Linked DNA regions of Homo sapiens. The protein of the gene in region 1 purifies or fractionates together with the protein of each later gene. This does not show direct contact. Each region holds a gene or a part of one and is shown in the gene's direction. Other genes may lie near its edges.

Region 1 (3,500 bases):
CTTAGGTCACGAGCAAGGATTTGGAGCCCCTTGTTTAAAATGCAAAGAAAAATGTGAAGGATTCGAACTGCACTTCTGGAGGTATTGTTTTGAAAACTGCAACCACATTAGTAATTTATACTTTTTGCAATACTTCCTCAGACAGTGGAGATATCTTCGAGTTCTCCAGCATGGTTGCTAAGTTGCAGACCTGTTACTGTCTTTTCTGAGAAATGAATACAACATAAAAAGTGTTCTGTCTTACTGTCATTAAGTTTGACTTAGTGAATTGGACCATAATAACTATTTAGAGTTGTTGGATTTGCTTGCTGTCTTTAAGATTTCCTTCGAGCCTGAAATACTGAATATATCATCTTTCTGGTGGTAAATAAGTTTGTGGTAATCCTCCAGGACTGTTTAATAATTTATTTGTTACTTTTTTTTTGAGACGAAGTCTCATTCTGTCACCTAGACTGGAGTGCAGTGGTGTGATCTCAGCTCACTGCAACCTCCGCTTCCTGGTTCAAGCGATTCTCTTGCCTTAGCCTCCTGAATAGCTGAGATTACAGGCTTGTGCCACGACACCTGGCTAATTTTTCTTTTTTGTATTCTTAGTAGAGATGGGGTTTCGCCATGTTGGCAAGGCTGGTCTCAAACTCCTGACCTCAAGTGATCAGCCCACCTCAACCTCCCAAAGTGCTGGGATTACAGGCGTGAGCCACCATGCCTGGCCCTGTTTAATAATTTAATTATTCTCTTCTTAAAAATTGGTAACTTTACATCTCATGTCTACATTTTCCGTAAACAAATATGAATACTGAATCAAGCATGTATATGTTAGTTATCAGGAAATGAAGTTGAATTTAGATCTCTTTAAAATTTTTAGCTGTAAAGTTACTAGTGAAAAACCATTGAAACACTTGAATTTTTTTAAGAAAAAAATTAATTGTAGTGTCTTGGTTTGAATGAAGTGCATATATACACAAGACAATGTTAGTGAGTCAAAAATGTGAATTTTCTATAGATCTTATCTTTAGGTTGTTTTGAAAGTACTACTGCATATCATATAAATCTAAAATCAGTATTTGAAACCTGTGCTTATGAATGACTGTCAAGTCCATAGTGGTAATTCACAAGTCTGCTCAAAGTTAGAATTAGCAGGAAAAAAAAATAAAGATAACTATACAGTTTTAGGATGGCAGCTACCTTGTTAGGATGACTCTCATTTGAGAAACACTTCTGTACTACAGATTTCCACAGGAAACCGTTTAGAATACTTTCATCAGCTCTTGGAGATGTGTACAGTGTAAATTAAAGGAGAATATAAACAAATAAAATTTTAGACATTAATCTCTTTTAAAAACTAGTTTATTGAATCAGTTTTCAGAAACAAAGATAATTGTTTAAAATAGGAAAGTCAGTAGAAACCTGCTAGAACTGATACAGTTCTTCAGTTTTGATACAATTCTTCAGTTTTAGGGAGCTAAAGTTTTCCAGAATTTTTTTTTACAAGACTTAAGCAGCTCTCCCTTGTGCTGTCTCTTCAAGGGACATAGAAGTGGCAGTATGTCTCTCATGTTTTAAAAAGGTAAAGTGACTTAACACAAAATAGTTTTCATGAATTAGAACATCTCTGCTCTTAATGCTCACACTATTTTCTATTGGGCCTATTAGTTAACTTTACAGAAGGCTGCACTGCCCTCTCCTGGGCATAGTTTTTACCTTACAATCTTATAATACATAAAATCCAAAATCCAAAATGCTCCAAAACCAAAACTTCTTGAGTGTCAACACGATGCCACAAGTGGAAAATTTCACATACCTGACCGTGTGACAGGTTGCATTCAAAAATGCATTCAAACCTTTGTGTCTTGTACAAAATTATTTAAAATATGTATAAAATTACCATCAGCTTATGTACATAAGCTGTATATGAAACAGAAATTAATTTTATGTTTAAACTTGGGCCCTATCCCCAAGATATCTCATTGTTTATGCAGATATTCCAAAATTTAAAAAAAATTTGAAATCTGATACACTTCTGTTTTATTTTACTTGTGAAACATTTTGGGTAAGAGATACTTAACCTGCATTCTTTTTAGTTCTGCTATGCAGTTGCCAAAAACCGCTCGTGAGATTTTAAAGCTCATTCCTAAGAGATATCATCTTTTCTCTAAAGCAAGTTAGTCATTTTTGTTATGTCTATATTAATCATTTTAATCGATATTTTCAGATGAAAATATATCCGACAAGAGCAGATCTCCATGGCATGAAAATAACCTTTTACATTTCAATTTATCACACAGACTCATTTAATCAACTGGGTGTAGTCTGAAAATCTAAGAGCCATAATAGTCTAGGACTTTGCATATGGCCTGTCATTCAGCTGGGGTTGATAACAGTCCACCCCATTGGTATTTCTTAGTAGTTCTGACATCTTCCTGGCATGGGTCCAGTCACATTTCTCTCAGAATTCTTGATAATTCCCTGACTTTTTCACCATAGCTAAAAGAGCTGAAGCAGGTGCCTTTGACCTCCCTATGTAGCCTCTTTCAGTACAGTCTTTGAAGTAAAATATTCTAGACTAGTTGTCCTGAGTGTAACAAAGATTCCAGGTCTAGTCTAGGGCCACAGAACTTATGTGGGTGAAGTAGACATGGGATCCCATGACCCTGCCCACTTAGCCTCCTCCTCCAGCTTCATGGTGATCCTTGACTTAGGACCCTGAGGGCTCCATCGGGCACATTTCAAAAATCAGAGTTAAATTATTCTCTACCTCTTTATTAGTCTGGCCTCTCACACAATCACAAGAATGGTCTTTTGAACATGGATACTATTACATACTTCAGATGACTTAAGAACCCTCAGTAGTTTCCCACTGGACTTCTTTTAGGCAAATTTCTTGGCCTTTGACATTAAACCCTAACATCTGGCCTCTGCTTGCTTTTCCAGCCTCTTCCACTTCCCTTCCAAGCACTCTATGATCCAAGTGCTTGATACATACTATTCCCTGAAATTTTGTGCCTTATTGCATGGTGTTCTCTGCCTGGAAAACCCTACCTCCCACCACTAGGAAACAAAAAGTCTCAGCTCAAGAAATACCTCTGAGAAGTCTTCCCTGCCCATGTATGTCTTTTCAGGCTGCCATAACAAAATATCACATACCTGGTAGTTTAAACAGAAATGTACTTTCTTCCAGTTCTAGAGGCTGGAAAGTTCGAGATCAGGTGCCAACATGGTTGAGTTCTGGTGAGGTCTCTCTTCCTGGCTTACAGACGGCTGCCTTCTCACCACGTGCTCACATGGCCTTTCCTTGGTGTGTGTGGGTGTGTGTGTGTGTGTCTGGAGAGGAAGAGATCTCTCTCCCTTTTCTTATAAGGTCACCTATTCCAATGGATTGTGACGTTCACCTTGTGACATCTTTTAACTTTACTTCTTAAAAGCCCCTGCTCCAAATACAGTCACATTAGGAGTTTGAGCTTCAGCATATGACTTTGAGGAAACACAGTTCAGCCCACAGC
Region 2 (3,500 bases), on another chromosome or scaffold:
AGTAGCTGGGATTATAGGCGCCCACCACCACTCCCAGCTAATTATTAGTAGAGACGGGATTTCACCATGTTGGCCTGACCTTGTGATCTGCCTGTCTTCAGCCTCCCAAAGTGCTGGGATTACAGGCGTGAGCCACCACATCTGGCTTCATTTTAAAATCTTGAACACCTGGATAACATGCTATTTAACCTAAGAAATTCCTCAGCATTTGGTGAGAGAGAATAGAGTATCATTTGCTCGCTAGTTGAGATAAAACTGGCCAAAGGTTTTTTTTTTTTTTTTTTTAAATACAGACAGGGTCGGCTGGGCATGGTGGCTCATGCCTGTAATCCCAGCACTTTGAGAGGCAGAGGTGGGCAGATCACTTGAGGTCAGAGTTTGAGACCAGCCTGGCCAACATGGTGAAACCCTGTCTCTGTTAAAAATACAACAATTAGCTGGGCGTGGAGGTGTGTGCTACTTGGGAGGCTGAGGCACGAGAATCGCTTGAATCCGGAAGGCAGAGGTTGCAGTGAGCCGAGATCGCGCCACTGCACTCCAGCCTGGATGACAGGGTGAGACTACATCTCAAAAAAAAAAAACCCAAAAAATAGAGACAGGTGTTGTCTCTATTGCTGTGTTGCACAGGTTGGTCTTGAACTCCTGGGCTCAAGTGGTCCTCCTGCCTCAGCCTCCCAAAGTGCTAGGATTACAGGCATGAGCCACTGTACTCAGCCCAAAGTTTTTTTTTTTTTTTTGAGATGGAATCTTGTTCCCGTCTTGCAGGCTGGAGTGCGGTGGTGCAGTCTTGGCTCACTGTAACCTCCACCTCCCAGGTTCAAGCGATTCTCCTTCCTCAGCCTCCTGAGTAGCTGGGGTTATAGGCGTGCTCTACCATGCCTGGCTAATTTTTTTTGTATTTTTAGTAGAGACAGGATTTTGCCATGTTGGCCAGGGTGATCTTGAACTCCTGACCTCAGGTGATCCACCCACCTTGGCCCCTCAAGGTGCTAGGATTAAAGGCGTGAGCCACCATGCCCGGTCATTTTTCTTTTTTTTAATTAAAAACCTTTTTTAAGAGACACAGTCTCACTCTGTCACCCAGGCTAGCATGCAATGGCATGATCATAACTCACTGCAGCCTCGAATTCTTGGGCTCAAATGATCTACCTGCATAGGTGGTACTACAGGTATAGGCCTCTATGCCTGACTAATTTTATTTATTTTTGTTTTTCATAGAGTTGGGGTCTTGTTATGTTGCCCAGGCTAGTCTCGAACTCTTGGCCTCAAGTGATCCTCCCTTCTTGGCTTTCCCAAATGTCGAGATTACAGGCGTGAGCTATGGCATCTGGCCAAAACTGGCCAACGTTGAATGAGTATGTTAATTCACCAATTTAAAAATCCAGCCGGGCGTGATGGCTGATGCCTGTAATCCCAGCACTTTGGGAGGCTGAGGTGGGTGGATCACAGGGTCAGGAGTTCGAGACCAGCCTGGCCAATATGGTGAAACCCCGTCTCTACTAAAAATACAAAAATTAGCTGGGCGTGGATACGCACGTCTGAAATCCCAGCTACTCAGAAGGCTGAGGCAGGAGAATTGCTTGAACCTGGGAGGTGGAGGTTGCAGTGAGCCGAGATCGTGCCATTGCACTCCAGCCTGGGTGACAGGGTGAGACTCCATCTAAAACAAACAAAAAAAAACTGGCTCACCTTGTTTTCAAGTGTTGACATAAACAGTCAAAAGCACCACTCAGTCTTTTATAATGCAAGTGAAATCAGTGCTGTGCCCCTTCAAGGAACCACGTGACAGTTTGTTCAGTTGAGCACAAGTTCCTTGCAGGAACAGTTGCTGGCAGAAGGGCTGTGTCTACAGCCCATGTGGAACCAAGGACAGTTTTCCCATTCAGTAGGGAGCATCCCTCAGCCTTGATCTTCATTTCTTGGCTGGGCGCAGTGGCTCACGCCTGTAATCCCAGCACTTTGGGAGGCTGAGGCGGGCGGATCACGAGGTCAGAAGATTGAGACCATCCTGGCTAATACGGTGAAACCCCGTCTCTACTAAAAATACATAAAATTAGCTGGGCGTGGTGGCGGGCGCCTATAGTCCCAGCTACTTGGGAGGCTGAGGCAGGAGAATGGCGTGAACCCGGGAGGCGGAGCTTGCAGTAAGCCGAGGTTGCGCTACTGCACTTCAGTCAGGGCGACAGAGCGAGACTCCGTCTAAAAAAATAAATAAATAAAAATAAATAAATAAAAATCCAAACAGCTGTTTATATGGTAGTTATAGAAGAGTGGATATACATATGTAAAAATTCACCAAGGTATATACTTAAAGATTTGTGCATTTCATTCTGTGTGCCTCAAACTGTAACAACTTGATTTTATTAATTTATAATTAAATTACCCTTAAAGGTAATTCACAGCGGGCTACAGTGACTCATGCCTGTATCCTAGCACTTTGGGAGGCCAAGGCGAGAGCATTGCTTAAACCAAAGAGTTCAAGACCAGTCTAGGCAATATCGTGAGACCCCTATCTCTACAAAAAACTAAAAAATTAGCTGGGAATGGTGGTCCGTTCCTGTAGTCCCAATTGCTCGAGGGGCTGAGGTACGATATTGTTTGAGCCTGGAGGTTGAGGCTGCAGTGAGCCCTGTTTGTGCCACTGCATTCCAGCCTAGGCGACAAAGTAAGACCCTGTTTCAAAAAAATAAAAATAAAAATAAAAAGGTAGGCCAGGCGCAATGACTCAGCCTGTAATCCCAGCACTTTTGGAGGCAGAGGAGGGCGGGTCACTTGAGGTCAGAAGTTCAAGACCAGCCTGGTCAACATGGTGAAACCCCATCTCTACTAAAAATACAGAAATTAGCCAGGCATGGTGCCGCATGCCTGTAATTCCAGCTACTCGGGAGGCTGAGGCAGGATAATTGCTTGAACCTGTGAGGCAGAGGTTGCAGTGAGCCAAGATCACACCACTGCACTCCAGCCTGGGCAACAGAGTGAGACTGTCTCAAAAAAAAACAAAAACAAAAACAAAAAATGCTGGGCGTGGTGGCTCACGCCTGTAATCCCAGCACTTCGGGAGGCTGAGGCAGGCAGATCACATGAGGTCAAGAGTTCAAGACCAGACTGGCCAAAGTGGTGAAACCCCATCTCTACTAAAAATACAAAAATTAGCCAGGTGTGGTGGTAGGCTCCTGTAATCCCAGCTACTTGGGAGGCTGAGGCAGGAGAATTGCTTGAACCCAGGAGGCAGAGGTTGCACTGAGTCGAAATCATGCCATTGTACTCCAGCCTGGGCAACAGAAGCGAACTCCGTCTCAAAAAAAAAAAAAAAAAAATTAAACTAAAGTTCTATTCTAAATGCTACTCCAACATTTTCAGCACTGTTTGTATATACATGAACTACCTCTTGCAGGAAACACAATAAATTGATAAAAAGGCCTTAGGTAGCAGAGGAACAGGGGAGAAGAGACATGATTTTTACATATATCCTTTTTGGGCTTTAAAATTGTATACCAGCT
Region 3 (3,971 bases), on another chromosome or scaffold:
AAAATTAGCTAGGAATAGTGGCACACACCTGTAATCCCAGCTACTTGAGAGGCTGAGGCAGAAGAATCGCTTGAACCTGGGAGGTGGAGGTTGCAGTGAGTTGAGATCGCACCATTGCACTCCAACCTGGACGACAGAGCAAGACTGCATCTCAAAAAAAAAAAAAAAAAAACTTTAAGGTAAAAATAATTAATGTATATAAGGAGGGTAATTTAAAAATAAAAAATTGTTAAAGTTTTTGAAAATATAATAATTTAAAATTTATGTGCTCTTCATAACATGGCCTCAAAATGTATAAAGGAAAAATTGACAGAAAAAGAAATAATGGGTAAATTCACAATTATAATGAAAACTTTTAATACATCTTTTGAAATAATTGATACGTAAAATTTGGACTACACAATAAATCCATTTGATTTAATAGATTGATTGATTGAATGATCGGTCTATCTAAAATATTGCATCCAACAAATGTAGAATGCACATTCTTTTCAACACTCATGGAATATTTTCAAAAATTGACCATATAGTAGAATATAAAGGAAGCTTTAGCAAATATATAAGGAGAGAACTCAGTTAAGATGTGTGATCTGATCTTAGTGCAATTAATAAAAAATAATAACATAAGTATATATTATGTATAATAATATAAAAGTTCAAAAGACAATAATAATAAAAACAGAAAATTCCCATATGTTTGGATGTGGTAGTGGTTGAGAGGCATGCATAGGACACAGATGTAAAAAGGACACTGTCTTGGTTTGCTGTATGTATTCAGGGATTGTTTAAATTTATTTAAGAAGATATTCACATAGTACTCATGCAATAGAAAAAGCTACTTTGCTGTTGCAGAAAATTTTACTCATACTCCTTCCTTTTCTCTGCCAATGCTAAATAAATTCTTAACCCAAAAGGGTGATTTTTAAAAGACACATGTTCTTTTCAACATAGTTATAAGTTGGACGCAGATTTGGATAAGCTCTCAGTAGTTCATCTGCAGCTGTGTACAAACTTTATCCCGGGTTGTTCAGGCCCAACACAGCTACTCTGAGACCAGATAACTAAAAAAACTAAAAAGAAGCTATACTGCTTTAAGTGAAGAAAGCTCCAGCCCTCAGGTGGAGTCATTTCCGGGCCCTGTGATAAAGCTCAGCTGGGAGGCTCCTCAGTCATTACTACAGGGCAGGAAGGGCACGTTCTCATCAGCATGGTAAGTGACTACACGCCTATGCATTGTTGTAGGAAATTTTACTAATCATATTTGGCCCTTTTCCCACAGCAAACAATTCTTAATAAAATTGTAATGCAAGAGAAGACATTTGTAAAGAAACATTTGTTTCTTTCAATGTCCAAGTAGATGAGTTGGGAGCAGATGTGGACAGGCTGTAATCTATTCCTCTGTAATGTTGCTTCTTTCAAGGTAAAGCTCAGTTGATTTGCAGTAGCTCACTGCCATTAATTGAAGCACTGAAGCAAAAACCTTTCCTTCCTTTAGTTTTCACCTTTGTTTTAGGCCCAGAGTGCTGATTTTTCTGTAGATATTCATTGCTTCACTTTTCGTTAGGCTGTTAAGAGTTTCTGAGGACTTCAGACTTAGGTAACCGTGGCTAACCTCATAAATGCCTGGCAGGGTAAAGTGCGCAGACATCTTCTTTGCCCTCCCTTGAGTTTAGTTCTTTGGGCACCACAATGAATAGAATAACTTACAATAATTCTGTTTTGGGATGACCTTTTCAGATCCATTTGCCCTTTATTTTTTTCTGTGCCAGTTTTTCAGTATCTTTGAATTTTTAATTCTTCAATGGAAGCAACATTTCGAACTGCTTCTTGATCTTTGATTTCTCACCCCATTGGTCTCTCTGTCCAACATTTAAAAAATTTTAAATTGTTTTGCTTTTAAAAATTATGCCTTTCAACATGAGAGAGACTTGTGATAATAGCATGTTCTGTATCTTATCACTGTCAACATTCTGGGTGTGATTTTGTATTATGGTCTTGCAAGATGTTTCCACTGCGGGAAATGGGTAACGGATGCAAGGGATCTTCCTATGTTATTTCTCACAGCTGCATATCAATCTACAAAGACCTCAAAATTGAAAGTTTAACTGAGAGTTATGCTTTTCTAGTAATTCAAATAATCCTTATAGCAGCGTTTAATAATGTGCTATGACTTATCAGTGTTGACGTTCAGTGGACATTTTATAGTCTTCTACTTTATAGTGTGACTAATATTTTCATAGAGAATTTGGAAAAAAAGGGAGAGGCTAAGAGAAGAATAAGGCAAAGATAGTCTTCTACACCCTTGGACAGAGTTATGTTATAAGCTAAGCTCCTTCAAAGACGAAGGATGCTTGTTAGTCCAGGCTATTCGTGCTGATTTCAAAAAGAACAGCATCACTCTGCTTTCTGAGTCACTTGAACAGACCACGTGAAGAGGAACAATCTTTTTTTTTTTTAATGTTAGTGATTATTTTTACTGTGACTATTATGAACAAATACCACATGTACACCTGAATTTTACTCGTCACTGTAACACAGGACTGGGTGGTAGCCAGTGGAGAAGACAGAGAAATCTACATGTAAACTTTACAAAGTAAGAGGTTTTAATGATGTAGAAACAATGAACGTTCACCCTCTCCTTTTAAAATGTTAACTTAAATTTAAGGAGCCAAGTTTTGATCAGATTACAGCAGCTGATGTATTTGCAGCACTTTAAGTCCGACAGAAGGGGAGAGGAATAAGATTAAGGTTATCTGAAGCCTGATAAGGGGTATTCGAAGCCTGTTTATAACAGAATATGCTGTCTTGAGAGGTGGAATATTAGTTTGTCCTAAATGAAGTGCTTTCTAAATTAGAGAGACTGATAGTTGCACAGAAAATAAACAAGATGGAAGCCCTACTAAGGTAGTGAACTTGAATTGGTCATGAAGCAGAGGGCTGTTATGCCTTGTGAATCACAGAGACAAAGTACAAAGGTTTGATGCCATTGAGCATGAACAGAGTCCAAGTCAGATTGCAGGGGTGTGGCCGACCAGAGCCCTCTCCTTACTTTCCTCTGACTAGTGGTCTGTGTAGACCAGTGGTCCTCAACTTTTTGGCACCAGGAACCAGTTTTGTGGGACACAATTTTTCCATGGAGTCGGCAGTGGGGATGGTTTCTGGATGAAACTGTTCCACCTCAGATCGTCAGGCATTAGTTAGATTCTCATAAGGAGCACACAACCTAGATCCCTTGCATGCGCAGTTCACAATAGGGTTAGTGCCCCTATGAGAATCTAATGCTGCCGCTGATCCGACAGGAGGCAGAGCTCAGTCAGTAATGCTCACTCACCTGCTGCTCACCTCCTTCTGTAAAGCCCAGTTCCTAACAGGGCACAGACTGGTACTGGTCTGTGGCCCGGGGGTTGGGGACCCCTGTGTAGACCACAGGTGAGGGATTGACAGGAGGCCTGAGGTCTTTCAGTAGTTGAATCTCAGGCTTTAGGGCAGTGTAGCCATGAACAAGGGCAGGGCTCCCCTCAGCTTATCTGGTCAAACAGCCCAAAGGGTCCTGATGATGCAGAAGACATGGGGGTCTCATTCTACAAGACCCTCTAAATAGATTTGTTTCAGCACCACAGTCAATCAAACCACACCAATATTAAGAACAGCGATTGCTATCACCTCAGATTTCTTAGAATTTAGCTTTTACTTTCCTTCTCATTTTTTTTCTTTCCTTCTCTTAAAAACGTAGATCATTGTCTGTTTAACAGAATAGTTGTTTGCCTTAAAAAAAAGATGATTTAAAGTGGGATGGGGGAATATGAAGGTGGAAGAAATAGTAAAGTTTAGACAAGAAAATAAAATCACTACCCAGATATTACTAAACTTAATATCTTGATGCATTTTCTTTTAGATTTTTATGCCTATTTTTGAACATATTGGACATCATACTCTATATGCAATCATGCATCTTATGTGCTTTTTACTTA
Region 4 (2,946 bases), on another chromosome or scaffold:
GGAAACTTACAATCATGGCAAAGGGTGAAGGGGAAGGAAGCACGTCCTCGCCTGGTGGCAGGAGAGAGAGGGAGAGGTGCTACACACTTTTAGACAAGCAGCAGTAGGAGGATGGTGCTAAGCCATTAGAAACTGCCCTCATGATCAAATATCCTCCCAGCAGGCTGCTCCTCCAACACTGGGAATTGCAATTTGACATGGGATTTCGGTGGGGACACAGAGCCAAACCATATCAATGAGTCAGTAGTATATTTCGTTATTTTTTTAAAGGATATGAAGAATGAATTTTGGTGTCATTTAATATTTTCTTCTTTCCTCTACTTTTGCCTTTTTTGGGTAAAAATCTAGTGTCTCTTTTAGCTTTTCTCCCTTCTTTTGCATGTAATACTGGGACTCATTTGGACAGTATCAGTCCTCCTGAGACTGTCAAGTATTGATTTAGTGACAGGTGTTTAGAATGATGTTGTCTACCACGCTTGATTTCTACAACTTAAGTCTGATGTTTCCTTTTCTGGAGTCAATCTTGCCACTCATCTTTAGTTCAACAAACTTTCCTTGAAGTTTATTTTGTGTCAAGTAGGTCAGAGTTCCTATGCTAGAGGTGAGTACCTCACTATCCAGAGGAGAAGGAAGACAACCTGATTTTTTGGTGTGTATTCTATCATAAAACATGAAAACTACAATATTTTAATGGATAGCACATTTTCTAAGTAATTTAAACCTTAATTAACCAAAACCCAACTAATTTTAAACTTAAGTAACCATGTTTTTATATTCTCAATTTTCATGAAAAAAAATCACACAAAAAGGAAACTGACTATTTTTAAGTAAAATATCAATTATAATTGTATATCACTTGCTTTCATGAAAGTATTCCAAATCATTAGGAATGATTAGGTAGTCTTTTTGTGTATCTGTTTCTAGAAATCTGTTTGTATTATATAGTTTTTCTATTAAGAACTTTTTAAGAAATCTCTTCTGGGGGCTTTTGTTTATTCTTAGTAGTTGGAACTAATGTAGTCTGACTAAAATACACATGGGTGTCTGCTCTGTGATGTTTAAACTTATCTGTTTTGTTTGTTTTTCATTTCAGGAAGCAGAAGTGCAAGCAAAGCAGCAAGCATGAACCTTAAGCACTGTGCTTTAAGCATCCTGAAAAATGAGTCTCCATTGCTTTTATAAAATAGCAGAATTAGCTTTGCTTCAAAAGAAATAGGCTTAATGTTGAAATAATAGATTAGTTGGGTTTTCACATGCAAACATTCAAAATGAATACAAAATTAAAATTTGAACATTATGGTGATTATGGTGAGGAGAATGGGATATTAACATAAAATTATATTAATAAGTAGATATCGTAGAAATAGTGTTGTTACCTGCCAAGCCATCCTGTATACACCAATGATTTTACAAAGAAAACACCCTTCCCTCCTTCTGCCATTACTATGGCAACTTAAGTGTATCTGCAGCTCTACATTAAAAAGGAGAAAGAGAAATAACCTGTCTCTCATTCCTAAGTTGCCTCATTAATTTTCATGAACAAGAATATGTACCTTTTTGATGCTATATTACTGCGATTAAAAAGTTCTTGCAGGTAATGTTTATGATATGTTAAACGTTGTAATTTCCTATCGTAATTATAACATTCCCATTCTTTTGTAGATGAAACTTCTACATATTGAACCACAGATTTTCTGAGCTTCTAAATGTAGCCTTTCATTGCACATTTCAGTGATCAGAATAGATATCCTTTTACACGCACAAAAGCAATAGATTCATTCAGTGGACAAGTTCCTTGTTTAACTACACAGCTATGATGGAATGATATATCCAAGTTCCTTGCCTCAGTGAAATATGCATATGTATATCATGAAAGTGGGATGCCAAGTAAGCTTAAAATGGCATTCTCTAGCAAAGAGATTAGACTTTTAAATAACTCTTATAAAACAGGTTGGCGATCATTTCCCAAGATTGGTTTCCCTTGAGTTTTTGCTAAAACAAATCTTAGTAGTTTTGCCCGTTTAAAACAACTCACAATCGTAAATGCTACTATTCCTAAGATATCTTACCTTTTTATTTCAGTTTAGCCATGTATTGTATGAGTGTATTAGTCTAAGCAGTGAGAATCTTTTCTATGCCTCTATTCCAGCAAAAAGTAGAAGTATCAAATAAAAAGGGCAACTTTTAAAATATTAAGCCTGAAGACTTCTAAAAAGACAAGAAACATGGCCTAAATAACCAACATAGATTTACATAGTAAGTTTCACACTACCTTATTACCAAAAGCAAACACCTCTTACTTTAAACTACATTATCATGTATATCTATTGTATGCTGGTCTTTACTTTTTGCCAAAATCAACATATAATGAAGAGATGCCTTTGTTTCATGAGATTCAAACTTGATGCTATGCTTTAAAATAAACTCAGTACTTTTAGAAACATAACTTATGTGTTCTTGGAGTTTATATAATAGTAATTTTAGATGAGTAATATCTTTTTTTAGAGGGTTGGGAATGCAAAAAGAGAAAATAGTAGAAAGAAAAAGCTTTGAATGCAATTCAAGGTTTTCGTTTTCTATGTTTTCTTTTTAGGGCTTTTAATCTCACAATACACATGAGGTCAAATGAACAATTTTATTGGGTTTACAAAAATACGGCATAAAGAACTCTAGAGAAAACAGGGTGCTTTGTAATACACTGGAAACGCAAAAAAAGTTTTTTAGTCAATATTTTCTCCTAAGCTTTATTAAATGTTGCTGATGATACTTGCAATATTTTATGTGGTCATTTTCACTTTTATTTTAATGTCAAATAAGTTAACACTGCCAAAATGGGCATTCTTTAAAAATAGATGTATTTTTTGCCATGTTTATATAACTTAAAATTAACATAGTATATTAAAGTAAAAGGTTGAATTGAGTCTTCCTAAACTGAAATATTTTATT

What was found.
Region 2: the proteins of TES (region 1) and TRAFD1 purify together in Homo sapiens (affinity purification with mass spectrometry, with the first as the bait; one large-scale study listed by BioGRID). This does not show direct contact.
Region 3: the proteins of TES (region 1) and TUBAL3 purify together in Homo sapiens (affinity purification with mass spectrometry, with the first as the bait; one large-scale study listed by BioGRID). This does not show direct contact.
Region 4: the proteins of TES (region 1) and SH3BGRL purify together in Homo sapiens (affinity purification with mass spectrometry, with the first as the bait; one large-scale study listed by BioGRID). This does not show direct contact.

The regions. Positions count from the first base shown.
Region 1 is NC_000007.14:116,234,539-116,238,038, forward strand, and holds part of TES (testin), read left to right. Parts: coding exon 1-81; intron 82-1,329; exon of another isoform or gene 1,330-3,500. UniProt on the Homo sapiens protein: Scaffold protein that may play a role in cell adhesion, cell spreading and in the reorganization of the actin cytoskeleton. Plays a role in the regulation of cell proliferation. May act as a tumor suppressor. Inhibits tumor cell growth.
Region 2 is NC_000012.12:112,135,560-112,139,059, forward strand, and holds part of TRAFD1 (TRAF-type zinc finger domain-containing protein 1), read left to right. Parts: intron 1-3,500. UniProt on the Homo sapiens protein: Negative feedback regulator that controls excessive innate immune responses. Regulates both Toll-like receptor 4 (TLR4) and DDX58/RIG1-like helicases (RLH) pathways.
Region 3 is NC_000010.11:5,402,029-5,405,999, reverse strand, and holds the start of TUBAL3 (tubulin alpha chain-like 3), read left to right. Parts: upstream 1-1,171; 5' UTR 1,172-1,207; coding exon 1,208-1,210; intron 1,211-3,971. UniProt on the Homo sapiens protein: Tubulin is the major constituent of microtubules, a cylinder consisting of laterally associated linear protofilaments composed of alpha- and beta-tubulin heterodimers.
Region 4 is NC_000023.11:81,296,102-81,299,047, forward strand, and holds the end of SH3BGRL (adapter SH3BGRL), read left to right. Parts: intron 1-1,093; coding exon 1,094-1,126; 3' UTR 1,127-2,446; downstream 2,447-2,946. UniProt on the Homo sapiens protein: Appears to function as an adapter protein that bridges proteins together or proteins with mRNAs. May function as a ubiquitin ligase-substrate adapter.